7 linked regions of the Homo sapiens genome follow. The protein of the gene in region 1 purifies or fractionates together with the protein of each later gene. This does not show direct contact. Each region holds a gene or a part of one and is shown in the gene's direction. Other genes may lie near its edges.

Region 1 (3,500 bases):
AGGTCCTTTATGTCTTCCCATCTGACTTTTGCAGGTAAAAGCTTTAAAGATAAGTTCTTTTTCAAAAATAAGGTCTTTCACTGCAAGACCACCAAAAGCATGAGGAATATATGCAGACACACTTATTATGCATGGATATTTATGCATAATCAGTGATAAATGCTGATGGCACATCGAGACAGTATAGTGTACTGGTTCACAGCACAGACTTCTGACTGTTGGTTTGAATCTTGGCTCTACCACTTATAGCTGTGTGACCTTGGGCAAATTACTTAACCACTCTGTACCTCACTTTCCTTATTTGTAAAACAAAGATAGAAATTGTTAACTATGTTAGAGGTTGTTATGAGGACAAATGAGTTAGTATTAGTCAAATACTTAGCCCAGGGCCCATCACACAGTAACCAATATTAAGTGTTGGCTCTTAGTTACTATGATATGCTCTGTCAAGCATCAACTGACCTGGTCTACTTCCAGTCAATAGGTAGTCTCTACATGGAAGCCAAATAAAAGATACTGTTGTCCATATTTCAGCAGAGTGGTTTCCTCAGGGGAGGCAGAGAAGGAATGGAATCAAGAGCATTACGTAGACAGGTTCAGTTATATCCATAATATAATTTTTATTTGTCTAAGTGGCAGATACAAAGGTATTTGTTAGAGTATTTTATCTCTTTCTGGTGCCTAAAATTTTTCATTAAAAAATGCTGTAGGGGTGGTTTGGTTTGTGCAGTGAAACCACCTATGTTATTCACAACCTTGCGAGAGATGTATCAACAGCTCTGGTTCAGAGATGAAAAAGTGAGGCCCAGAAGGCTCTTCCGGCCAGCCTTCAAAGGAAGGGCTGAAGGCTCAGTGGTGACTGTGTACATCAAAGTGGTTAGGCACTATGCAGTGTAAGCAGTGGTCATATTACATGGGACTATGTTTGAAATCAGTAAGAATGAAAGGCAGAATTACGTTGAACTCCATTTAAATAAATGACTGGGGCAAAATATGGAATCTGATTTTTCTTGGAGGGGGGGATTGAGTATCAAAGTGTGTATTCCAATAAAGTATCTGTCCAATGTGACACTTTTCAAGTGCCTAAGACCCTACGAGGCCACGGCCATCGCTGCCTGTTCTACCTTAGCTTTGGCTCTGCCGTGCCCTGGCTTCCCTGGCTTTGCCGGTGGCCCGTCCACACTGGCATATGTCCATGCAGGTCTAGAGAGGCCTCTTATTTCTTTTTTATGTGAGTCTCCATTCTAAATGTTATCATCTTAATTTTGTACCACATATTGTTTTTTCTTGTTTGGATGATATCACCGTTGCTACAATAAACACCTTCCACTACAATTCATCTTCTGCTTTATTACACGTTGAGTTGACAGAATGCCTTCCAAACATTCCTTTCTACTTACCCTGTGAGCTTTTGGCCATGTTGTACCTGAGAACTGTTGCTAACTTGCGGATTTCGGGCAGATTACACTGACCAGAGTCCACATTCACTTTTTATTCTTACATCCTAACAGGTCAGTGTATATTACTTTCAGTGACTATGAGAGTGTACAGGGACTGCCTGCCTTTCGGTATAAAGTTCCTGCAGAAATATTAGCCAATACGTCAGACAATGCCGGCTTCTGTATACCTGAGGGAAACTGCCTGGGCTCAGGAGTTCTGAATGTCAGCATCTGCAAGAATGGTAAGAACTCAGAGAGGGGACATGATAGGGGTGTCAAGAATGCAGAAGGATTGGAGTTCAACAAAGAATATGTAGCTGGGCGTAGTGGCGCACACCTACAGTCCCAGCTACTAAGGATGCTGAGGTGGGATGATCACTTGAGCCCAGGAGTTCTCAAGTCCATCCTGGGCAACATGGCGAGACCACTGTCTCTAAAAAACAAAACAAACAAAAAAGAATATATTGTCAGCCCAATAGAAAGATCAGTTTCTTTCAAGAACAATGTTTCATAACATGGCTATTGAATGGTAAAAAAAAATCATGGCTTTTCTGTGATGCTTTTTATTTCTAGAATGCCATGTTGTGTTTTTTTTTCTGGACAGTGGTTTAGAAGTCTTAACAGTAATAATAGCTCATGTTTACTAAGCACCTGATGTATGCCAGTCACTGTCCTAAGTGCTTTACATATTTACATGTAGTTAATGCATGCAAAACATTAACTGATTTCATGTTCAAAACAATGCTAAGGCTGGGCACGGTGGCTCATGCTTGTATTCCCAGCACTTTGAGAGGCCGAGATGTGAGGATTGCTTGAGGCCAGGGGTTCAAGATCAGCCTGGGCAACATAGCAAGACCCTGTCTCTACAAAAAAAAAAAAATTAAAAAATTAGCTGGGTGTGGCGGCACACACCTGTAGTTACAGCTGCTCAGGAGGCTGAGGCAGAGAGATTGCTTGAACCCAGGAGTTCGAGGTTGCACTGTGCTATGATTGTGCTGCTGCACTCCAGCCTGGGCAATAGAGTGATTCCGCACCTCCCCACCAAAAAAAAAAAAAAGCTAAAAGAAAAAGTGGACAACTCAGTTTTAAGAAAGTACGTATCATGGCAAAGATTCTCAGTGATTTTGAAGCAGAGTTAGTTTTAAACCCTGACACAAATGTCCCAGTGTTTCTTAATGTCAGAGCTACTCTGCTCCTTTCCATGAATGAGGCAGAATTATCAGTGGCACAACTGACAAAACTATTTTCTTCATCTTGAAGAGTAGTTTTAACAGCCACATGTTGCAGAATTATTCACAATGAACTTACTAGATAGTAGACATTCAGCGGCCTGTTTTTATAATTGGGGAAACTAGGGCTCAGAGAGGGAACGTGATTTTGATGCGACTCCTCCCTCTGAGCAGATCCCTGGCGGAACTCAGGGTCTTCTCATATTTGCCCTGTGATTCCCTCTTGGGCTGTAATTCCTCTTTAAAATTTCTCTGGAGAGCTCTCTGTGTAGTCCCTTTCTCCTGAATAGTAATGTGCTCACTTTTGCTCCCTTATCTATCTCATTTTAAAATCTCCTTTCAGGCCTGGCATGGTGGCGTGTGCCTGTAGACCCAGCTACTCAGGAGGCTATGGTGGAAGGGTCGTTTGAGCCCAGTTTGATTCTAGCCTGGGCAACATAGCGAGACTCCATCTTTTAAAAAAGAAAAAAAAAAAAAGAATAAGATATCATTTTGGAATAAGTCTGAAGTCAGCAGTATACCTCCTGATCCTTGTCTGACAGGGCAGTGACCCCCACACCTGGCTTTACATCAGAATTATCTGGAGAGTTATTAAAAATATATTGGTGAGGCATGGTGGATCATGCCTGTAATCCTAACACTTTAGGAGGCTGAAGCAGGAGGCTCACTTGAGGCCAAGAATTTAGACCTGCATGGGCAACAGGGAGACCCCATCTGAACAAAAAATTTAAAAATTAGCTGGGCATAGTAGCATACACCTATAGTTCCAGATACCCAGGAGGCTGAGGCTGGAGCGTAGGAATTCAAGGCTGCAGTGAGCTATGATTGCAAC
Region 2 (4,292 bases), on another chromosome or scaffold:
TATAAATGTAAGTCTGTACAGCTATGGGCGAAACAAAGGAGGAGTGGTCAGGTACACTTTGAGGAGGAGGCATAACAAGAAATAATTCATAGGTCTTTCCACAACAGAACCTCTAGCACCACCTTGCTATCAGTCCTTTGCACATTTCCTCTAGCCCCAGATCCCCTCTCACCTTCAGAGATTCAATCGTGGCCTGCTTGTAAACCTTTCCTCCAGAATCTTTCTTCTGAGGGCTATTCTGGATTCTAGGCGTTCGAATGACGAATTTATCCATTGTTAGGGGACTCCGACTACCTTGACGTGCTTGCAGCGTGTTCTGGTCAAGAAAGAGGGCAGATTCTAAAACCCCACTAAAGACTGCCATGATATTTTTTCCCCAAAGTAACACAATTGAGTTCTCTGGAAGAATTCATGAATTATGGGGCCTCGAGTGGAATTGACAGGAAGTAAGATTTTCTCTTTAAAAGAAAGATCTTCCGAAGAATTGAAACTGTAATCAATCATCAGTCTACGTCCTGAGTTAGGAGGTTCCTAGCTTCCAGAAGTGCACGCTCTAGCGAGGATTCCAACATTGGGGGAATTGGCCCAATATTGGAATCCCCGCTAGAGCGTGCACCTAAGCCCTCTTCCAAATAAGATTGGGCTGTGAAAGGGTTAGGATTACATTAGGCTCAGTGACGCCCTCTTAACAACCACCTCACCACAGCCATAATCCCAAGGGTTGCCCTGGTAATCAGCAACCGACAACCACCTCCAGAACTCAGCAGAGGGTCTCACAATACGCAGCATCCCCTAGAACAAACTGCTCGGTGGTCAGAGGACCCTACCCACGGCTGTAATCTCTGGATCCCCGAACAAGGAGAAACCCCATCCTCCTCGTTCCCAGCACTCAGGAGCCCGGGTAGGGGCACCCAACAACGGTCTGACGTGAGACCCACCAGGAAAAGCAGCCCTGGTAGCTGCTGTTGGCGCCCTCCAGACTGCAACCTCGTAGGCTCCCAAGCCCAGTCGTCTGTGTTGAAACTAAACAGACGCTTCCTCCCAGGGCGGTAGTTCCTCTGAAGAAACTCCGCCGGCCCTCGCGCCTCTGGGCCACAGCGAACCACATTCCCCAGAATGCACTGCGAAGAAATGCGGGCGGAAGGCGCGCTGAGGGCGGCTGTAGTTTTCCGAGACCAACTTTCCCGACAGCACCGTGCGCCTCCCGCCTACGGAGAACTACATGCCCCAGCCTGCCCCGCGAAGGGAAGAAGTCAGGAGGCCCCGCTTCGCGCTAACGCTTGCGATGGTTGAATTCCCCTCCTCACGCCAGCCTAGGAGAAGAAGTTCGTAGTCCCAGAGGTGAGGCAGGAGGCGGCAGTTTCTGGCGGGTGAGGGCGGAGCTGAAGTGACAGCGGAGGCGGAAGCAACGGTCGGTGGGGCGGAGAAGGGGGCTGGCCCCAGGAGGAGGAGGAAACCCTTCCGAGAAAACAGCAACAAGCTGAGCTGCTGTGACAGAGGGGAACAAGATGGCGGCGCCGAAGGGGAGCCTCTGGGTGAGGACCCAACTGGGGCTCCCGCCGCTGCTGCTGCTGACCATGGCCTTGGCCGGAGGTTCGGGGACCGCTTCGGCTGAAGCATTTGACTCGGTCTTGGGTGATACGGCGTCTTGCCACCGGGCCTGTCAGTTGACCTACCCCTTGCACACCTACCCTAAGGTAGGGCCCGTCCGGAGCGGGCTGCGACCCTTCCCTTGCAGCCCATTTCTCGGCTCCCCACACGTATGTCGGCTCTGGCAACCTGGCTGTTAAATCGGCCCTTCAATCGCTGTCTCCCATCTGTGTAGCTCCTGTTTTCCTCCCTAATCCTGCCTGCACCCCATTTCTGCTGTCATTACCGGAAGTTTGTCCTGCACTACCCTGTGATAGGCTGGGGGACACAAAGATGAGAAAGACGCGATCCCTTTCCTCTGGGAGCTTGCCGGGCTGCAGGGGAGTCGAGCACTCGGAGGAGGATAGGGGAGGATATGGATGATTAATGCGGGGTCCTCACCTAAGGGAGCGTAAGGGGGGATTGTAGAAAGGGAGGCGCAGATACGCGAGTCCACAAATGATTGATTGATAACCCTTGTTTACTAAGCGCCTCTCGGGGCCAGGAGCGCAGTCTTCGGGGAGTCAGACAAGTAGACGATTCCACTGTGGTATAAAAAGCGTCACGAAGGCAGCTCAGGGAGTAGCGAGACGCTCAGGAATGCTGTCTGCCTATGTTGAGTTACTGTGTCCAAGACGCTGCCAAGAGGGACTGGGTTAGAGAAGAGGCAATTAGGTGTCTGCCTACCAGAAACTGACCACTCAGTGCAGAAAACGGGGAATTCGTGGAGTGGGTGAAGAAATGAGACTGTGGACAGGAGGGGGTTCGCAGCTTACAGAGAGGAATGGCCCTCCTCTCTATGCTTCCCCCCTTTCTTTTAATTACATACCTAACCCTCTTCACGTTGGTTTTTCAGCCTAAGAACTCTGTTTACTCAACATTCTAAATTGCTTGATGATTCCCACCACACCTTTCCCATGTATGATTTGAGTATATGCCCTCCCCCACGTTGTTTTATGAGAGCTTTTGTTGATGTTGCTGGTGGTTTCCTCTTCGTTTTTCCTTCATCTCCTCTATGCTATTTGCTTAACCATTGTGGCTGGACCTCCTTGCTCTCTAAAACTGGAGTGGCTACGGAGACAGTTCCAGTGAAGCTTAGGATGTTCCATATTGGCGAGTATTTTCAGGTCTTTGAAATGAAAAGTTCTAAGTGCCGGCACTTCTCAGATTTTGTTACGGCTGGATTTTAAACTGCATGGAGATTATCAATTTTCAAAAAAAAGTGTGGGAGAAGGGACTGTACTAAATTTTTCCAGAGATTTATGTAACAATCGAGAAAGAAGTGAGAAGTTTTAACTTCAGACTTAAATCAATGAATACTGCTTCTAACCACGTTATTTTTCTCCACCTCTTGTAAACTTCTCATCATTAAGAGGATTGTATGAAGAAGCTCATTAATATTGATTTGGCCTGGAATTGGGTTGAGACTTACTTTCTATTGTTCTAGGGTTTGTTTCCTTTTTTGGGATTTTCTCGGCAATTTTGTGGTATAAACCAGAATGTTGGGAAAATAATCAAATAATTTGAAAGGATACCTTCCTGGAAGTTGTAGGTACTTTAATAATGTCCACTATTTTCTAACAATTGGTGTTATATCTATAAACTATTTTTACTTATTTATTAAAGCTTTTCTCACAAAGAACTCCAAATCATCTGGCTCCCTATAGGTCCTGGACTTGAAATTTATATAGACTCCACTGTTAGCCAGAGTGATGGGAGATTTATCATACCATTATCCCTAATTCTCACAACAACCCTGTAAAGTAGGGTTTTAAAATTAAGGAAATTGAGGCTCTGAAAGGTTAAGTGACTTGCCTAAGGTCACATACCCAAGAAATAGTGGAGCAGGAATTCAGCTTAAAACTGGCTACACTATGCTGCCTCCTATTAATAAACTTGCATTAAACATATTCGGCCGGGTGCGATGGCTCACGCTTGTAATCCCAGCACTTTGGGAGGCCGAGGTGGGTGGATCACCTCAGCTCAGGAGATTGAGACCAGCCTGGACAACATGGCAAGACCCCGTCTCTGGAAAAAAGAAAAACAAAAAAACTAGCCAGGCATGGAGACGAGCACCTGTAGTCCCAGCTACTCGGTGGGAGGCTTGCTTGAGCCTGGGAGGCGCAGGTCGCAGTGAGCCGAAATGTCGCCAGTGCACGCCAGTCTGAGAATGAGACCGTGTCTCAAAAAAATAAAAATAAAAAAATGCCGGGCGCGGTGGCTCACTCCTGTAATCCCAGCACTTTGGGAAGCTGAGGCGGGTGGATCACCTCAGGTCAGGAGTTCAAGACCAGCCTGGCCAACATGGTGAAACCCTGTCTCTACTAAAAATACAAAAAAATTTAGCCAGTCGTGGTGGCGGGCGCCTGTAATCCCAGCTACTCAGGAGGCTGAGGCAGGAGAAGCGCCTGAACCCGGGAGACAGAGGTTGCAGTGAGCCCGCGCCACCGCACTCCAGCCTGGGCGACAAGAGGGAAACTCTGCATCAAAAAAAAAAAAAAGAAACATATTTAATTATGTCACTGATTTCTATTGGCTCTCCTCTGTGCTTTGTGCTCCAGGAAAAAGCACTGTGTATTGTAAGAAATTAGATGAATTTTCAAACTCACATAGCGTTTGAAAAACGAGATAGAAATCTCGTTTTAGGCTGGGCGCGGTGGCTC
Region 3 (3,500 bases), on another chromosome or scaffold:
GAGGAAATGTGTTCTTCAGTGCACAGAATGCAGCAAAACAGCCATCTGATAAATGCTCTGCAAGCCCTCCCTTAAGACGGCAGTGTATTAGAGAAAATGGAAACGTAGCAAAAACGCCCAGGAACACCTACAAAATGACTTCTCTGGAGACAAAAACTTCAGATACTGAGACAGAGCCTTCAAAAACAGTATCCACTGCAAACAGGTCAGGAAGGTCTACAGAGTTCAGGAATATACAGAAGCTACCTGTGGAAAGTAAGAGTGAAGAAACAAATACAGAAATTGTTGAGTGCATCCTAAAAAGAGGTCAGAAGGCAACACTACTACAACAAAGGAGAGAAGGAGAGATGAAGGAAATAGAAAGACCTTTTGAGACATATAAGGAAAATATTGAATTAAAAGAAAACGATGAAAAGATGAAAGCAATGAAGAGATCAAGAACTTGGGGGCAGAAATGTGCACCAATGTCTGACCTGACAGACCTCAAGAGCTTGCCTGATACAGAACTCATGAAAGACACGGCACGTGGCCAGAATCTCCTCCAAACCCAAGATCATGCCAAGGCACCAAAGAGTGAGAAAGGCAAAATCACTAAAATGCCCTGCCAGTCATTACAACCAGAACCAATAAACACCCCAACACACACAAAACAACAGTTGAAGGCATCCCTGGGGAAAGTAGGTGTGAAAGAAGAGCTCCTAGCAGTCGGCAAGTTCACACGGACGTCAGGGGAGACCACGCACACGCACAGAGAGCCAGCAGGAGATGGCAAGAGCATCAGAACGTTTAAGGAGTCTCCAAAGCAGATCCTGGACCCAGCAGCCCGTGTAACTGGAATGAAGAAGTGGCCAAGAACGCCTAAGGAAGAGGCCCAGTCACTAGAAGACCTGGCTGGCTTCAAAGAGCTCTTCCAGACACCAGGTCCCTCTGAGGAATCAATGACTGATGAGAAAACTACCAAAATAGCCTGCAAATCTCCACCACCAGAATCAGTGGACACTCCAACAAGCACAAAGCAATGGCCTAAGAGAAGTCTCAGGAAAGCAGATGTAGAGGAAGAATTCTTAGCACTCAGGAAACTAACACCATCAGCAGGGAAAGCCATGCTTACGCCCAAACCAGCAGGAGGTGATGAGAAAGACATTAAAGCATTTATGGGAACTCCAGTGCAGAAACTGGACCTGGCAGGAACTTTACCTGGCAGCAAAAGACAGCTACAGACTCCTAAGGAAAAGGCCCAGGCTCTAGAAGACCTGGCTGGCTTTAAAGAGCTCTTCCAGACTCCTGGTCACACCGAGGAATTAGTGGCTGCTGGTAAAACCACTAAAATACCCTGCGACTCTCCACAGTCAGACCCAGTGGACACCCCAACAAGCACAAAGCAACGACCCAAGAGAAGTATCAGGAAAGCAGATGTAGAGGGAGAACTCTTAGCGTGCAGGAATCTAATGCCATCAGCAGGCAAAGCCATGCACACGCCTAAACCATCAGTAGGTGAAGAGAAAGACATCATCATATTTGTGGGAACTCCAGTGCAGAAACTGGACCTGACAGAGAACTTAACCGGCAGCAAGAGACGGCCACAAACTCCTAAGGAAGAGGCCCAGGCTCTGGAAGACCTGACTGGCTTTAAAGAGCTCTTCCAGACCCCTGGTCATACTGAAGAAGCAGTGGCTGCTGGCAAAACTACTAAAATGCCCTGCGAATCTTCTCCACCAGAATCAGCAGACACCCCAACAAGCACAAGAAGGCAGCCCAAGACACCTTTGGAGAAAAGGGACGTACAGAAGGAGCTCTCAGCCCTGAAGAAGCTCACACAGACATCAGGGGAAACCACACACACAGATAAAGTACCAGGAGGTGAGGATAAAAGCATCAACGCGTTTAGGGAAACTGCAAAACAGAAACTGGACCCAGCAGCAAGTGTAACTGGTAGCAAGAGGCACCCAAAAACTAAGGAAAAGGCCCAACCCCTAGAAGACCTGGCTGGCTTGAAAGAGCTCTTCCAGACACCAGTATGCACTGACAAGCCCACGACTCACGAGAAAACTACCAAAATAGCCTGCAGATCACAACCAGACCCAGTGGACACACCAACAAGCTCCAAGCCACAGTCCAAGAGAAGTCTCAGGAAAGTGGACGTAGAAGAAGAATTCTTCGCACTCAGGAAACGAACACCATCAGCAGGCAAAGCCATGCACACACCCAAACCAGCAGTAAGTGGTGAGAAAAACATCTACGCATTTATGGGAACTCCAGTGCAGAAACTGGACCTGACAGAGAACTTAACTGGCAGCAAGAGACGGCTACAAACTCCTAAGGAAAAGGCCCAGGCTCTAGAAGACCTGGCTGGCTTTAAAGAGCTCTTCCAGACACGAGGTCACACTGAGGAATCAATGACTAACGATAAAACTGCCAAAGTAGCCTGCAAATCTTCACAACCAGACCCAGACAAAAACCCAGCAAGCTCCAAGCGACGGCTCAAGACATCCCTGGGGAAAGTGGGCGTGAAAGAAGAGCTCCTAGCAGTTGGCAAGCTCACACAGACATCAGGAGAGACTACACACACACACACAGAGCCAACAGGAGATGGTAAGAGCATGAAAGCATTTATGGAGTCTCCAAAGCAGATCTTAGACTCAGCAGCAAGTCTAACTGGCAGCAAGAGGCAGCTGAGAACTCCTAAGGGAAAGTCTGAAGTCCCTGAAGACCTGGCCGGCTTCATCGAGCTCTTCCAGACACCAAGTCACACTAAGGAATCAATGACTAACGAAAAAACTACCAAAGTATCCTACAGAGCTTCACAGCCAGACCTAGTGGACACCCCAACAAGCTCCAAGCCACAGCCCAAGAGAAGTCTCAGGAAAGCAGACACTGAAGAAGAATTTTTAGCATTTAGGAAACAAACGCCATCAGCAGGCAAAGCCATGCACACACCCAAACCAGCAGTAGGTGAAGAGAAAGACATCAACACGTTTTTGGGAACTCCAGTGCAGAAACTGGACCAGCCAGGAAATTTACCTGGCAGCAATAGACGGCTACAAACTCGTAAGGAAAAGGCCCAGGCTCTAGAAGAACTGACTGGCTTCAGAGAGCTTTTCCAGACACCATGCACTGATAACCCCACGACTGATGAGAAAACTACCAAAAAAATACTCTGCAAATCTCCGCAATCAGACCCAGCGGACACCCCAACAAACACAAAGCAACGGCCCAAGAGAAGCCTCAAGAAAGCAGACGTAGAGGAAGAATTTTTAGCATTCAGGAAACTAACACCATCAGCAGGCAAAGCCATGCACACGCCTAAAGCAGCAGTAGGTGAAGAGAAAGACATCAACACATTTGTGGGGACTCCAGTGGAGAAACTGGACCTGCTAGGAAATTTACCTGGCAGCAAGAGACGGCCACAAACTCCTAAAGAAAAGGCCAAGGCTCTAGAAGATCTGGCTGGCTTCAAAGAGCTCTTCCAGACACCAGGTCACACTGAGGAATCAATGACC
Region 4 (3,500 bases), on another chromosome or scaffold:
TGATGTAGGTAAGAGTAACAGACAATAATGATGCCTTATAACAAGATATATAGATAGTACGTGTGAATGTATGTAGGTGGGGTAGGTAAGTAGATAAGAAGAATTGAACTAATAAAACCAGAAATTATGTGAGAATATGCACTAAGAGGCTGGAGAAACCTAAGCGTCCAGAATTGTTGGCCTCAGTTTCTTATAGGTCAGATTTAGTCCTTCAGGGTTTTGAGGGGTTTTTTTTTTTTTTTTTTTTTGGTTCTCTTGTAATTGGATGATGACTGCTACTAAAAGGCCAAACACTTTAGCAGTTGCCCAATTCCTTCTCCTTTAGCAGTCACTTAAATGGCAGTGATGTTGACTTAAATGACAGCCATTCTGTCTAAAAGGCCATGGTTAATCAAAAGAGTATCAGTCAAATGTGTGTGCCTACTATATGCTCAGTTGCAGACAATCTTCTCCAAGAGCTTCCCTCATTTGAGAAAAATAATATATGTACACAAATTACTTTTTTTAAAAAAAGTGTTCAAGTATATACTCAAAATGATCTTGTCCGATTTTGGAGATTATCAGTGAAAAACCTCTTCTAGAGCAGTGGTTCTCAAAGTGTAGTCCCCAGACCGGCAACGTCTACATCATCTGGGAAATCGTTAGAAAAGCAGATTCATGGGACCTACCCCAGACCTACTGAGTCAGAAACTCTGTTTCTGATCTGTGTTTTAACAAATGTTCTGGGTGATTCTGGCGCATGCTGAAGTTTGAGAACCATTCTTCTAGAGAAACAGAAAAGAACATTAGATGTGTAGTTGGTACTTAAAATTATCAGGAATATGACTACCTGAGCAAAGAATTGGCCAATAACCCACATCAGTGGGGAGCCTTAAGGATAGGGACGGAGGGAGGGTGGGCGATGGGATCACTTATGAAGACAGATGAATAGGGCTGCTAACTGAGGAGGCATCAGGCCGCGGCTGTGGAAGTGAAAAGGAAGCCAGGCCACCAACTGAAGACTCCTTTGTTGTAAAGTTTCAGAGGTTTCTTCAAGTTGAAGAGAAAGACTAACTGACAAATTGAAAAGTCAAGGAGAGCTGATGTAACAAACAGGGATGAAAATACGCATACTAAAAGGTCATCTCAAATACAAGTAGTTATTTAAAGCAAAATTACAGGGGAAAAAAGTCTTAATGGCCAACTTTGACATTCAACTTTGAGTTGAAAGATTTCAGCAGCTTTAAATATAAGCTTTGAGTAAAGTATCCTTCAATAAGGGTTGAGCAGACCAAGATTTTTTTTTTTTTTTTTCCAAGACAAGATCTCAGTTGCCCAGGCTGGAGTGCAGTGGCATCATCACTGTTCACTGCAACCTCCACCTGCCAGGATCAAGTGATCCTCCCACTCTTAGCTTCTCAAGTAGCTGGGACTACAGGTGCACGCTACCATGCCTAGCTAATTTTTTTTCCCCTTTGGTAGAGATGGGGTTTTGCTACGTTGCCCAGGCTGGTCTCGAACTCCTGGGCTCAAGCAGTCTGCCCACCTCAGCCTCCCCAAGTGGTGGGATTACAGGCGTGAGCCCGCTGCACCTGGCTGAGCACACCAAGATTTCTAAATCAATTTGAACACTTGAGATTATCCAAATTTAGCTAAGTTGTATTGGATTCCCTCTCAAGGTTACCTGCCAAGGGAAGGGTTGTGGGAGAAAAATCTGAGCTAAACATCTGAACTATCAGGTAGTAAGATGAATGAATTACTGGCATTTTAACCTAATTGTGAATTTATTTCATGTGTCATATTAGGTTCTCCTTCCTGAGCCGAATCTGTGGATACAGTGTAGTGTGTAACACTTCCTTTAAAGATGTCACTCACCTAAGGAAACTTCAGGGGCTAGCTGGAATTTCCTAATCCAATTCTTAATTAAAAGCTTTATTAAAAGCTACCTTTTGGAAATACTAAGTCCTTGTAAGTCTTCTCATCTAAATTATAACAGAGAAAGCATCTCCACAGGAGCCTAAAAATAGTATTTTGATTTGAGAGGATAATGCTAGTTTTGAAGAAGAAAAAATAACCACATTGAAATTGAACCTAGGTAAATTAGTCTTGTTTTATGTTCTCTCCAGATATTTTGTACCAAAAATGAGTTCATGTGAAAAGTGAGATTAAGTGTCACATCTACTATGTGACAGATGCTATGCTAATAAATTTGCGTATAACCTCGCAATTCTCCACCAATCAGCTAGGAATTATCATCCTGATTGTATGGATGAGAAAACAGACTTTGATAAGTTAAATGACAAAACCATAAGAAACTAGATCTGATTCCAAAGCCTTTATTCTTTTTACCCTAATTCCTCTACAATTTTAGGAAGCTAAAAACATAGGAGTAGGACCTTAACCCACTTGCAGACAACAATTTTCTTGAATATATATTCCGTATAGCCTTTTTATCTCAGTTGACTTGAATGCTCACCCTAAAATCCAAAACTAAGACTAACTGGGTTAAGGAAAATCTTAATACAGAGACAGAAGTAAGTATGCCCTAAAATACCTAGAACAGGTCTAGAGACCCATCAACATGAGAATATATTTAGTTCAGCAACCAAATGAATAGAATCGGCTTCTTGTTTGGGATTTTGAAAGTACTTTTTCATTTGAACTAGTCTTAGGCAATGGTCTCGCCTGACCTTCAGCGAGCCTCAGTGTCTACTGGGTGGCAAGAAATAGATACCGTGAATGGTCACAGCATTATTTACAGCATTTAATCATTCTGGACCTCAAAGAGATTTGAGAACATTTCTCATTTTCCTAGTTATGGTAGGTAATTTTTTTTTTCTCTAACCAACTACTCAAGAGTCATTGAAGAGAAAAATCAGGACCCACTGAAAGTGTGGACACGAACCCTCCCTCTCAAACCTAGGATTCTAAACACTGCTTTTCTTGTTAGTATGGCGTGTTGTTACTATCGTACAAAGCCACCATTTTCCAATGAGTCTTCAAATCATTTGGAAGTGCATTTGGGAAACAAGAAAGAATCCTGTGCTTTTATTGTTTTTTGTTTCTTTATGAAACAAGTGGCAAGCAATACTTCTGAATGTTACATTGCATGACTAGGTCACAGAATTTCCCATTCTGCCTAAGAAGATGCCTTTTTTGAAGTGCTGTGTGTTTGATATAGCGATGGTACACTATTTGTAGAAAGTGGGTTTCAGTATAAACCATAACCACAGAGGTAAATCTATGGTTCAGTATGCGATTTGACGTACAGGAAGTATCTGGGTCTAATGATGAAACTTTTTAACTTTCCAGATGACAGAACAAAGGAAGCAGAAACAAAGAATTGGTCTTCTAGGACATCCTCCTCACATGAATGTCAACCCACAACAACCAGCATAAGCAAATGAAAGAAAGGAATTGTATTTACCTTTTATAATTATTATTAGTGTGGGTATGGCTAATGAGTTCTGATTCACCCACGAAGGTTACATTTATGCTGAATACATTTGTAAATACTCAGT
Region 5 (3,947 bases), on another chromosome or scaffold:
CAAAACACGGTACATCAAGTTTACCTCCTTCACCATTTTCAAGTGTACAGGGCGGCAGTGTTGAGTACACGCACAGTGTTGTGCAGCTGATCTCCAGAACATTCTCATCCTGCAACCTTGAAGCTCTGTCCCTATTAAACTCCAACTCTAACCCTAACCCCAACCCTAACCCATTGCCTCCTCCCTCAGCCTCAGGCAACCTCCATTCCACTTCTGTCTCTATGTATTTGACTCCCCTCGGGACCTCAGAGAAGTGTGTTCGTGCGTATTTGTTCTTTTGCACTGGTATATTTCACTGAGCATAATGTCCTAAGGTTCATCCATGTTGTAGCAGGTGTCAGGGTCGCCTTTGTTTTCAAGGCTGCGTGATACTCCATTGTATGTGTGCACCCTGTTTGGTTTCTCCATTTCTCTTTTGCTGGACACTTGGGTAGCTTCCAGCTCTTGGCTGCTGTGGATAATGCTGCTGGGAACATGGGTGTGCAGTTATCTGTTCGAGTCCCTAGTTCGCATTCCTTTGGCTACACACTCAGAGTGGGATGTCTGGACTGAAGCAATACTTTTGAACTCAGCCTGAGGTTACCAAACTCTCTGAACTCCTTATCAGAGGCTACACTTCTGGGTGTTCCCCGGGGCCCATGGAAAACAGACTCACCCCAGGCTCCATCTACCTGTGCAAGGGAACAGGGGTCAACCTCAAGTGCACAGGCTGCTCTGGAAGACCCAGCCCAGGTCTGGCTGACCCAGAGCACTGGCCCCTTCCCAGCCTGCGTCCTCAGGACATAGGTGTGGGCACCCATATACACCAAGTGGGTTCTAGGGCAGCCAGGCCACCCAGTGTGCCTCCTTTCACACTCCTCTGGGGCTCGTGACATTACGAGCCCTAACCCGGGCCCTGGCCTAGGCTGTGTGTTTCCAGTCTCACCTCTCTTCACACCTTGAATGAGGTGAATGAAGGAGTGGCAACGCGTCTCCCACAAGACACTGTGAGCCACACCCAGTCCCTTCCCTTCAGCAAGCTTGGCTTCAGGTCACAGGACTGGGCGGGGTCAAGATGGACACCAGGGGTGTGGGGAGGGACGTGGAGCATTTACAGCCAGGGGCAAAGTCCTCCCCTGATTTAAACCCAGGCAGCCTGCGCTGCAGCCGGTTCCTGGTGTCCCCACTTCGCCTCCCTCCTGCTGCCCCCAAGACATGCAGGGGCCCTGGGTGCTGCTGCTGCTGGGCCTGAGGCTACAGCTCTCCCTGGGCGTCATCCCAGGTAATGAGGCTCCCCAAGCTGTTCCACACACAGGGCACCCCCTCAGCCAGGCTGACCTGATCTCTACTCTCCCCCTGGCCAGCTGAGGAGGAGAACCCGGCCTTCTGGAACCGCCAGGCAGCTGAGGCCCTGGATGCTGCCAAGAAGCTGCAGCCCATCCAGAAGGTCGCCAAGAACCTCATCCTCTTCCTGGGCGATGGTGAGTGAGCAAGGCCTGTCCAGCCCCGTAGTCCTCACAGCCCCGGCACCCGGGACCTTCAGTGGTTCCAGGACAACCCTGGGGCCCAGGACTCACACATTTCTGCTCCTTCAGGGTTGGGGGTGCCCACGGTGACAGCCACCAGGATCCTAAAGGGGCAGAAGAATGGCAAACTGGGGCCTGAGACGCCCCTGGCCATGGACCGCTTCCCATACCTGGCTCTGTCCAAGGTAAGGGCTGGGCCACCTCAGAGTCCTCCAAGCAGAGGAGAGGGATCAAGGATATGGAGTGTGGCAGGAGGGAGGGAGCCAGGACAGCTGGGGCCTAAGTTAGGAGCTGGGAGCAGTTAGGATCCCAGAGGACCAGAACCAGGTCCTTGGTTGGGGTCTGGGTGTCCGCCCCGAAGTAGAGCTCAGGGTGTCTCCGTTCGCAGACATACAATGTGGACAGACAGGTGCCAGACAGCGCAGCCACAGCCACGGCCTACCTGTGCGGGGTCAAGGCCAACTTCCAGACCATCGGCTTGAGTGCAGCCGCCCGCTTTAACCAGTGCAACACGACACGCGGCAATGAGGTCATCTCCGTGATGAACCGGGCCAAGCAAGCAGGTGAGCTGGGGCCCGCTGTGGGGTCAGGACCAGGCCCAAGATCTCGGTCACCGATCCTGACCTCTGTCACCCTCAGGAAAGTCAGTAGGAGTGGTGACCACCACACGGGTGCAGCACGCCTCGCCAGCCGGCACCTACGCACACACAGTGAACCGCAACTGGTACTCAGATGCTGACATGCCTGCCTCAGCCCGCCAGGAGGGGTGCCAGGACATCGCCACTCAGCTCATCTCCAACATGGACATTGACGTGCGACCCCCGGGCCAAGGGCTGGGGCTGGGCAGAGGGGAAGGTGGCACAGGCTCAGATCCAGGCAACCAAAAGCCTGATCTGGGTCAGCAGGTTCTGGAGGTGGAGTTGGGGATGTAGAATGTGCAATACAGGCTGGGCCATTCCCACAGCCCTGGGGAGGGGAGCCAGGGGCTATGCATGAGGAGGGGGCACGGGGCCAGCCAGGCCCCCAAACCACCTGCCCCATCCATTGTCCTCAGGTGATCCTTGGCGGAGGCCGCAAGTACATGTTTCCCATGGGGACCCCAGACCCTGAGTACCCAGCTGATGCCAGCCAGAATGGAATCAGGCTGGACGGGAAGAACCTGGTGCAGGAATGGCTGGCAAAGCACCAGGTGATGGGGGCTGGTGGGTGTGGGAGGCACGGCAGGGGGAGGCCAAGTGTGTGGGTCTCAGGGCTGTGGGCTGAAGCCTGGCTCTGTCCCTGCAGGGTGCCTGGTATGTGTGGAACCGCACTGAGCTCATGCAGGCGTCCCTGGACCAGTCTGTGACCCATCTCATGGGTAATGACCCCCTTCCTGCCCTGGCATTCCTCAGACAACCTCAGAGGGTGCCATCCGAGCCTGTGTGCCCATTTGCCAGCACCCTCCCGCTCACAGCCTGCCAATCACCACCAAGCTCCTTGTCCCACAGGCCTCTTTGAGCCCGGAGACACGAAATATGAGATCCACCGAGACCCCACACTGGACCCCTCCCTGATGGAGATGACAGAGGCTGCCCTGCGCCTGCTGAGCAGGAACCCCCGCGGCTTCTACCTCTTTGTGGAGGGTGCGTGGTGGCCCCTGGGGAGTGGAGGAAGGCGGGGCGCGGCAGGGCAGGTTCAAGCATCACCCCCCTCTGGCCTTCCTGCAGGCGGCCGCATCGACCATGGTCATCATGAGGGTGTGGCTTACCAGGCACTCACTGAGGCGGTCATGTTCGACGACGCCATTGAGAGGGCGGGCCAGCTCACCAGCGAGGAGGACACGCTGACCCTCGTCACCGCTGACCACTCCCATGTCTTCTCCTTTGGTGGCTACACCTTGCGAGGGAGCTCCATCTTCGGTAGGCCTGGGGAGAGTGGCAGGTGCTGCTGCATCAATTATGAGGGTGAAGTTTGAGCTTCAGTTTCCTCCTCTGTCAAAAGTGTGCAATGCTGGCACCAGCCCTATAGGGATCTTGTGAGGACCGAGCCCCCGAACAGGCAAAAAGTGGCGGTGCCTGGCACATAGGAGGCACTCCCACAGCTGTGGTCAGCTCAACTACAGGGACCCGCATCTCCCTACAGGGTTGGCCCCCAGCAAGGCTCAGGACAGCAAAGCCTACACGTCCATCCTGTACGGCAATGGCCCGGGCTACGTGTTCAACTCAGGCGTGCGACCAGACGTGAATGAGAGCGAGAGCGGTGAGTGAGGCTGAATGGCCCGTGCAGGGGGACCAGGGTGCCAGGGATGGGGGCATTCGCGGGAGGGGGACGCCGCCTGCCTGCCCTGAAGTGCACTCACCCTCCTACCAGGGAGCCCCGATTACCAGCAGCAGGCGGCGGTGCCCCTGTCGTCCGAGACCCACGGAGGCGAAGACGTGGCGGTGTTTGCGCGCGGCCCGCAGG
Region 6 (3,994 bases), on another chromosome or scaffold:
ATTGTTGGTAAAATTTACATCATATAGCAGAAATGGCTTCTTCAGTAAAACAGACTGAAGAATATGCTAGAGACTGGCTGCAATATAAGTGAGGTCTAATTGGTTTTAAATGAAGTATTTTCCACTCTTTCATTTCTTGAGTGGTTTCAATTTAGAGCATCTCTTCGGTTCTACCTTTAATTCCCACATTTAGATTACAGTGAGATCATTTTCTGTTCCTCAATTTTGGTTCCAGACCAACATTTTAGATTTTAATACTACTATAATCTTGCTTTATCCAACAATAAAATCTTGCCAAAAGTACAAGTACTATTGAAGATATTTGTTGTATTTTCATTAAGAAAAGCTATTTTATAAAAGGGATGGATGATATAAAATAATACGTTTTTAATGAGAATTTTGAGCCCAATTAGCACGTTTGTTTGTTTGTTTTCTCTCCAGCAACCATAGTAAGTCCACCAAACCTTGATTTAGATCATCTGGTAATACAATGAAGTTGGGAAACGGTTTAGGTCGTATCTCAGAGGGTCCGCTCCTCTCACCATCCAAGTTTCTGCAGCAGCAGTGTTAAGAAAGATTCCTTGCCGGGCGCGGTAGGTCACGCCTGTAATCCCAGCACTTTGGGAGGCAGAGGCGGGCGGATCACTTGAGGTCAGGAGATCGAGACCATCCTGGCCAACATGGTGAAACCCCGTCTCTACTAAAAATACAAAAATTAACCGGGTGTGGTGGTGCGTGCCTGTAGTCCCAGCTACTCGGGAGCCTGAGGCAGGAGAATAGCTTGAACCCAGGAAGCAGAGGTTGCAGTGAGCCGAGATCGCGCCACTGCACTCCAGCCTGGGCGACAGAGCGAGACTCTGTCTCAAAAAAAAAAAATTCTTAATTTAATGCTTAGTCGACTCCTCCACTACTGAGGGAGCAAGGCGGAGAAGTTTTGATGCGGAGCGTTGCCTGAAAGATGTTTTTGTAGAGGCATTTTAGAAATGCCCCTGGGAGGTTAGAGTAGGGGGCTGCTCTGGATTTGTGAGGTCCGTTTTAACTTCCCTTGAAAAGCGCATCATGTGGGCGGGGGCAAGCGCCTGGCTGCGCCGGGGGGCACCACGGTGCTGCCCATCACGGGAACCGTCCGGGGTCGGTCCGTGAGCCCCTTTCTCCGCCCACCCAGCGGTCCGGCCGCGCATGCGCTGAGCTGGCGGGCCCGAGTGTTGTCGGCTGGGAAATGGCGGCCGCGGGCTTGGTCGCTGTGGCAGCGGCTGCCGAGTACTCTGGCACGGTAGCGTCGGGAGGTAACCTCCCTGGTGTTCACTGCGGCCCAAGCTCCGGGGCAGGCCCTGGTTTTGGCCCGGGCTCGTGGAGCCGCTCTCTCGATCGAGCCCTGGAGGAGGCGGCGGTCACTGGGGTGCTGAGCCTGAGCGGCCGGAAACTGAGGGAGTTTCCCCGGGGAGCGGCCAACCACGACCTGACGGACACCACCCGGGCGGGTGAGCGGGGCGGGGGGCGTCTCTGCCCGTCGGAGACCCGGCGCCGGGAGCCGCCCCGGCCGGGGGAGGCGGATGCGGGGGAGTTACAGCAGCTCGTCCCGTAGGCGCCGGGTCCGGACCCGGGTAACGGGGAGAAGCCGACGGCGCCAGCCCTCCGGGCCTGCGCCAGACCCAGAGCCTGGGGAGAGGCGGCGGGCGGCGGCATCTCTCGGGGAAGGGGGCCGGAGTGATTGATGGATGATTTTTTAGGCTTTCTGAGGAAAATCAGTTTCTGCCACGGCGGAGGTAGACCCTTGCCCCGCCCCGGTTTCTGCAGGCCCTTTCGGATTTGGGGTGCCGAATGGACCTGCTAAGACGGGAACGTTAGCGCGAGCTCTTCACAGATCAGAGTAGCAGGGGTGTCTGGACGAGCTGCATTGTCAGGAAGGGTCGGTCTCAGCCCTGGAGTTTTTTCGAAAGAAGTGTTGGGGAGCGTGTGTTTAAAGTGGACCCGAAAGAAGTGTTGGGGTGTGTGTGTGTTTAAAGTGAACCCGAGAGAAGTGTTGGGGTGTGTGTGTGTTTAAAGTGAACCCCAAAGAAGTGCTGGGGTGTGTGTGAAGTGAACCCGAACGCTGGAACGTCTTTCTTCGCCTCCATCTAGTTGACTTACAAAATAAATACGCTTGTAAAAATAACTAGAGCCCACTTTCCGACTCCCATTAGTTTCCTCTTCCACTCCTCATGTCCTCCAAAAAAAAGTTGAAGCAAACTACTTAGAAAAGATAGTCTAACATATTTGTACTTGCTATTCCTTTTTAAAGCATTACTTCGTGTTATGTATGTTTTCGAACACAGGAAAGAGAATAAGAAAGTAGGTATTATTTGGCTTTCTTAGTTGTGGCGAACAGTGTCTGGTGCCCGAGTTGTTCATCATCATGTTTGCAGTGCCGTCATCACTGCTCACTGCAGCCTCGACCTCCCGGGCTCAGGTGATCCTCCCACCTCAGCCTCCTGAGTAGCTGGGACTACAGGCAGCCGCCACCACGCCCAGCTAATTTTATATATATATATATATATATATATATAAAATATACATATATATATAATATACATATAAATATTATATATAAAATATATATATATTTTTTCGAGACGGTATCTCGCTCTTGTCTCCCAGGCTGGAGTGGAATGACACAATCTCTGCTCATTGCAACCTCTGCCTCCCAGGCTCAGGTGATCCTCCCACCTCAGCCTCCCGAGTAGCTGGGACTACAGGCGCCCGCCACCACACCCGGCTAATTTTTGGATTTTTATTAGAGACGGGATTTCACCATGTTGGCCAGGCAGGTCTCGAACTCCTGACCTCAGGTGATTCGCCCGCCTCGGCCTCCCAAAGTGCTGGGATTACAGGCGTGAGCCACCGCGTCCGGCCAATATTTTGTATTTTTTTGTAGAGACGGGGTTTTGCTATGTTGCCCAGGCTGGTCTCCAACTCCTGGGCTCAAGCTATCCGCCGACCTCGGCCTTACAAAAGGTTGAGATTACAGGCGTGAGCCACTGCGGCTGGCAGTACTTGGTGTCTTATTTTATTTTAAAATCTTAGATTGAGCACATTTTCTATGCTTTGCAGTCATTAAAAATTTATAAGTATTACATATGATTCACTCATTTTGGAAAAATAAACAGAACTGTTAAACTAAAGAAGCGATTCTTTCCAAAGAAACTTTTGCTGTAGTTTAAAATAGAAGAAATTAAATGCCTGCTTATTTAATCTCTTTTTGGAAACAGTTGAACTGAATATTTTTTAGTGATTTAAAGTTTCTTGCTAAGGTAAATATGAGCAGCCACTTTCCTTTTGTGTGTGTTCTGGTAGACGGCATGTAAAATTATCATTCACACCTCAGATTTCCTGCTTCTGTTTAGGAGATGGCTATATGGTATAGTGATTTCATATTGGTGTGAGTCATTTCATTGTTACTACATCAAGCCTGAAGCTAAAGAACAAGTTGATTACAGGAGTCTGTCTAGCTCATTTTCTCACCTGCTTTTCAGTAGGTCTAGGAGCACCGTGTTGAGTCCTTAAATATTTTATTGACTAAGAAAATCCAAGTGCATTTATGAAGAATAATAAGTAATACCAAAGAGGTTTTTCCTTACTGTGCTCTGAGTTTTTAAGTATGGTGTTGCCTACACTTTAATAGTTTTGTATAGAAACCACATTTTTTGTTGGTTGATTTTTCATCTGGTCAAAACGTGTAAAAAGAAAATAAAAAGATTACAAGGTATTTTATAAGCTATTAGACTAGATTCATTTCTAACATGTAGTAATATCACTTATGAAATATAAAAAAAAATCTTTGGCAGACCTTGCTCGTTACCCAGTCTCTGTTTTAAACAGATAATTTAATGCCAATGACATCATTTATTGAGTGTTCACTATTTGTAATTCACCGTGTTAGATATTTTGAAATATACTGCCTTGTTAAATGCACACAATAATTTGTGGATTAAATACTATCCCCACTTTACATGTG
Region 7 (3,500 bases), on another chromosome or scaffold:
TATTTAGTGAGACAGGGTTTCACCATGTTAGCCAGGCTGATCTCGAACTCCCGACCTCAGGTGATCCACCCACCTTGGCCTCCCAAAGTGCTGGGATTACAGGCGTGAGCCACCGCACCCGGCCCACATTTAAGTCTTTAATCCATCTTGAATTAATTTTTGTATAGGGTGTAAGGAAGGAATCCAGTTTCAGCTTTCTACATATGTCTAGCCAGTTTTCCCAGCACCATTTATTAAATAGGGAATCCTTTCCCCATTTCTTGTTTTTGTCAGGTTTGTCAAAGATCAGATGGTTGTAGATGTGTCATACTATTTCCAAGGACTCCGTTCTGTTCCATTGGTCTATATCTCTGTTTTGATACCAGTACCATGCTGTTTTGGTTACTGTAGCCTTGTAGTATAGTTTGAAGTCAGATAGCGTGATGCCTCCAGCTTTGTTCTTTTGGCTTAGGATTGTCTTGGCAAGGCAGGCTCTTTTTTGGTTCCATGTGAACTTTCAAGTAGTTTTTTCCAATTCTGTGAAGAAATTGGTAAGCTTGTGAAGTCATTGGTAGCTTGATGGGGATGGCATTGAGTCTATAAATTACCTTGGGCAGTATGGCCATTTTCACAATATTGATTCTTCCTATCCATGAGCATGGAATGTTCTTCCATTTCTTTGTGTCCTCTTTCATTTCGTTGAGCAGTGGTTTGTAGTTCTCCTTGAAGAGGTCCTTCACATCCCTTGTAAGCTGGATTCCTAGGTATTTTATTCTCTTTGAAGGAATTGTGAAGGGGAGTTCACTCATGATTTGGCTCTCCGTTTATCTGTTATTGGTGTATAAGAATGCTTGTGATTTTTGCACATGATTTTGTATCCTGAGACTTTGCTGAAGTTGCTTATCAGCTTAAGGAGATTTTGGGCTGAGACAATGGAGTTTTCTAAATGTACAATCATGTCATCTGCAAACAGGGACAATTTGACTTCCTTTTTTCCTAATTGAATACCCTTTATTTCTTTCTCCTGCCTGATTGCCCTGGCCGGAACTTCCAACACTATGTTGAATTGGAGTGGTGAGAAAGGGCATCCCTGTCTTGTGCCAGTTTTCAAAGGGAATGCTTCCAGTTTTTGCCCATTCAGTATGATATTGGCTGTGGGTTTGTCATAAATGGCTCTTATTATTTTGAGAAACATCCTATTAATACCTAGTTTATTGAGAGTTTTTAGCATGAAGGGCTGTTGAATTTTGTCAAAGGCCTTTTCTGCATCTATTGAGATAATCATGTGGTTTTTGTCTTTGGTTCTGTTTATATGATGGATTACGTTTATTGATTTGCGTATGTTGAACCAGCCTTGCATCACAGGGATGAAGCCAACTTGATCATGGTGGATAAGTTTTTGATGTGCTGCTGGATTCAGTTTGCCAGTATTTTATTGAGGATTTTTGGATCGATGTTCATCAGGGATATTGTCTAAAATTCTCTTTTTTTTGTTGTGGTCTCTGCCAGGCTTTGGTATCAGGATGATGTTGGCCTCATAAAATGAGTTAGGGAGGATTCCCTCTTTTCCTATTGATTAGAATAGTTTCAGAAGGAATGGTACCAGCTCTTTTTGTACCTCTGGTAGAACTCGGCTGTGAATCCGTCTGGTCCTGGACTTTTTTTTGGTTGGTAGGCTATTAATTATTGCCTCAGTTTCAGAACCTGTTATTGGTCTATTCAGGGATTCAACTTCTTCCTGGTTTAGTCTTGGGAGGGTGTATGTGTCCAGGAATTTATCCATTTCTTCTAGATTTTCTAGTTTGTTTGTGTAGAGGTGTTTATAGTATTCTCTGATGGTAGTTTGTATTTCTGTGGGATCGGTGTTGATATCTCCTTTTTCGTTTTTTATTGCGTCTGTTTGATTCTTCTCTCTTCTTTATTAGTCTTGCTAGCGGTCTTATCAATTTTGTTGATCTTTTCAAAAAACCAGCTCCTGGATTCATTGATTTTTTTTGAAGGGTTTTTTTGTGTGTCTGTCTCCTTCACTTCTCCTCTGATCTTAATTATTTCTTGCCTTCTGCTAGCTTTTGAATGTGTTTGCTCTTGCTTCTCTAGTTCTTTTAATTGTGATGTTAGGGTGTCAGTTTTAGATCTTTCCTGCTTTCTTTTGTGGACATTTAGTGCTATAAATTTCCCTTTACACGCTGCTTTAAATGCGTCCCAGAGATTCTGGTATGTTGTGTCTTTGTGCTCATTGGTTTCCAAGAACACTTTATTTCTGCCTTCATTTCGTTATTTATCCAGTAGTCATTCAGGAGCAGGTTGTTCAGTTTCCATGTAGTTGAGCGGTTTTGAGTGAGTTTCTTAATCCTGAGTTCTAGTTTGACTGCACTGTCGTCTGAGAGACAGTTTGTTATAATTTCTGTTCTTTTACATTTGCTGAGGAGTGCTTTACTTCCAACTATGTGGTCAATTTTGGAATAAGTGTGATGTGGTGCTGAGAAGAATGTATATTCTGTTGATTTGGGGTGGAGAGTTCTGTAGATGTCTATTAGGTCCGCTTGGTGCAGAGCTGAGTTCAATTCCTGGATATCCTTGTTAACTTTGTCTCGTTGATCTGTCTAATGTTGACAGTGGGGTGTTAAAGTTTCCCATTATTATTGTGTGGGAGTCTAAGTCTCTTTGTAGGTCTCTGAGGACTTGCTTTATGAATCTGGGTGCTCCTGTATTGTGTGCATATTTTTTTTTTTTTTTTTTGAGAAGGAGTCTCACTCTGTCGCCCAGGCTGGAGTGCAGTGGCGGGATCAGAGCTCACTGCATCCTCAAACTCCTGGGCTCAAGCAGTCCTCCTAACTCAGCCTCCTAAAGAGCTGGGATCACAGGTGCACACCTCCATGCCTAGCCAATTTGTAAATGTTTTGTAGAGATGAGATCCCATTGTGTTGCCCAGGCTGATGTCAAACTCCTGGCCTCAAGTGATTCTCCCACCCCAGCCTCCAAAAGTGATGGGATTACAGGCGTGAGCCACCACACCCAGCCAGGAAATATTTTAGAGTCAGAATAGATGAGACTGTTTTCTGTTGTTCTATAATAGCCTCAGATGAGTAATTAGGCAAGTGATGTAAAACCTTTGACTCTTTTCTTTGGGATCAGGTAGAGCCTGCTGATAAGGAGTTCTGATATGAAGGCAAGATTTTCCTTTATTCTGTAAGAAAGAACCTTATCCTTGGAAGTAAGGGGTCAGCAAAAGTTACAGGAAAACAGGAAATTTCCCTTCTTATTCTGCACTACTTTTTTCTGACTTTTCATTTATGGACCTGCTTTAGGAACAGCGACATCTCACTCATGAAAATGTACAGCGCAAGCAAGCCAGGACAGGAGAAGAGCGAGAAGAAGAGGAAGAAGAGCAGATCAGTGAGAGTGAGAGTGAAGATGAAGAGAACGAGATCATTTACAACCCCAAAAACCTGCCACTTGGCTGGGATGGCAAAGTAAGTCTCAGCACTACCACTTTCTCCCCATTCCCCATTTTGGAAACA

Evidence for each region.
Region 2: the proteins of SCARB2 (region 1) and TMEM59 purify together in Homo sapiens (co-immunoprecipitation; one large-scale study listed by IntAct). This does not show direct contact.
Region 3: the proteins of SCARB2 (region 1) and MKI67 purify together in Homo sapiens (affinity purification with mass spectrometry; one large-scale study listed by BioGRID and IntAct). This does not show direct contact.
Region 4: the proteins of SCARB2 (region 1) and ITPR1 purify together in Homo sapiens (affinity purification with mass spectrometry; one large-scale study listed by BioGRID and IntAct). This does not show direct contact.
Region 5: the proteins of SCARB2 (region 1) and ALPI purify together in Homo sapiens (affinity purification with mass spectrometry; one large-scale study listed by BioGRID and IntAct). This does not show direct contact.
Region 6: the proteins of SCARB2 (region 1) and LRCH3 purify together in Homo sapiens (affinity purification with mass spectrometry; one large-scale study listed by BioGRID and IntAct). This does not show direct contact.
Region 7: the proteins of SCARB2 (region 1) and SF3A3 purify together in Homo sapiens (affinity purification with mass spectrometry; one large-scale study listed by BioGRID and IntAct). This does not show direct contact.

The regions. Positions count from the first base shown.
Region 1 is NC_000004.12:76,172,325-76,175,824, reverse strand, and holds part of SCARB2 (lysosome membrane protein 2), read left to right. Parts: coding exon 1-34; intron 35-1,511; coding exon 1,512-1,681; intron 1,682-3,500.
Region 2 is NC_000001.11:54,050,405-54,054,696, reverse strand, and holds the start of TMEM59 (transmembrane protein 59 isoform 2 precursor), read left to right. Parts: upstream 1-1,492; 5' UTR 1,493-1,508; coding exon 1,509-1,697; intron 1,698-4,292. Other genes in the region: TCEANC2 (transcription elongation factor A N-terminal and central domain-containing protein 2), read right to left, coding at 173-274.
Region 3 is NC_000010.11:128,105,924-128,109,423, reverse strand, and holds part of MKI67 (proliferation marker protein Ki-67), read left to right. Parts: coding exon 1-3,500. UniProt on the Homo sapiens protein: Protein that associates with the surface of mitotic chromosomes and acts both as a chromosome repellent during early mitosis and chromosome attractant during late mitosis.
Region 4 is NC_000003.12:4,842,848-4,846,347, forward strand, and holds part of ITPR1 (inositol 1,4,5-trisphosphate-gated calcium channel ITPR1), read left to right. Parts: intron 1-3,291; coding exon 3,292-3,378; 3' UTR 3,379-3,500. UniProt on the Homo sapiens protein: Inositol 1,4,5-trisphosphate-gated calcium channel that, upon inositol 1,4,5-trisphosphate binding, mediates calcium release from the endoplasmic reticulum (ER).
Region 5 is NC_000002.12:232,455,006-232,458,952, forward strand, and holds the start of ALPI (intestinal-type alkaline phosphatase precursor), read left to right. Parts: upstream 1-1,147; 5' UTR 1,148-1,194; coding exon 1,195-1,261; intron 1,262-1,343; coding exon 1,344-1,460; intron 1,461-1,574; coding exon 1,575-1,690; intron 1,691-1,893; coding exon 1,894-2,068; intron 2,069-2,144; coding exon 2,145-2,317; intron 2,318-2,559; coding exon 2,560-2,694; intron 2,695-2,789; coding exon 2,790-2,862; intron 2,863-2,992; coding exon 2,993-3,127; intron 3,128-3,211; coding exon 3,212-3,403; intron 3,404-3,626; coding exon 3,627-3,743; intron 3,744-3,854; coding exon 3,855-3,947. UniProt on the Homo sapiens protein: Alkaline phosphatase that can hydrolyze various phosphate compounds.
Region 6 is NC_000003.12:197,790,060-197,794,053, forward strand, and holds the start of LRCH3 (DISP complex protein LRCH3), read left to right. Parts: upstream 1-1,194; 5' UTR 1,195-1,219; coding exon 1,220-1,481; intron 1,482-3,994. UniProt on the Homo sapiens protein: As part of the DISP complex, may regulate the association of septins with actin and thereby regulate the actin cytoskeleton.
Region 7 is NC_000001.11:37,969,523-37,973,022, reverse strand, and holds part of SF3A3 (splicing factor 3A subunit 3), read left to right. Parts: intron 1-3,287; coding exon 3,288-3,452; intron 3,453-3,500. UniProt on the Homo sapiens protein: Component of the 17S U2 SnRNP complex of the spliceosome, a large ribonucleoprotein complex that removes introns from transcribed pre-mRNAs.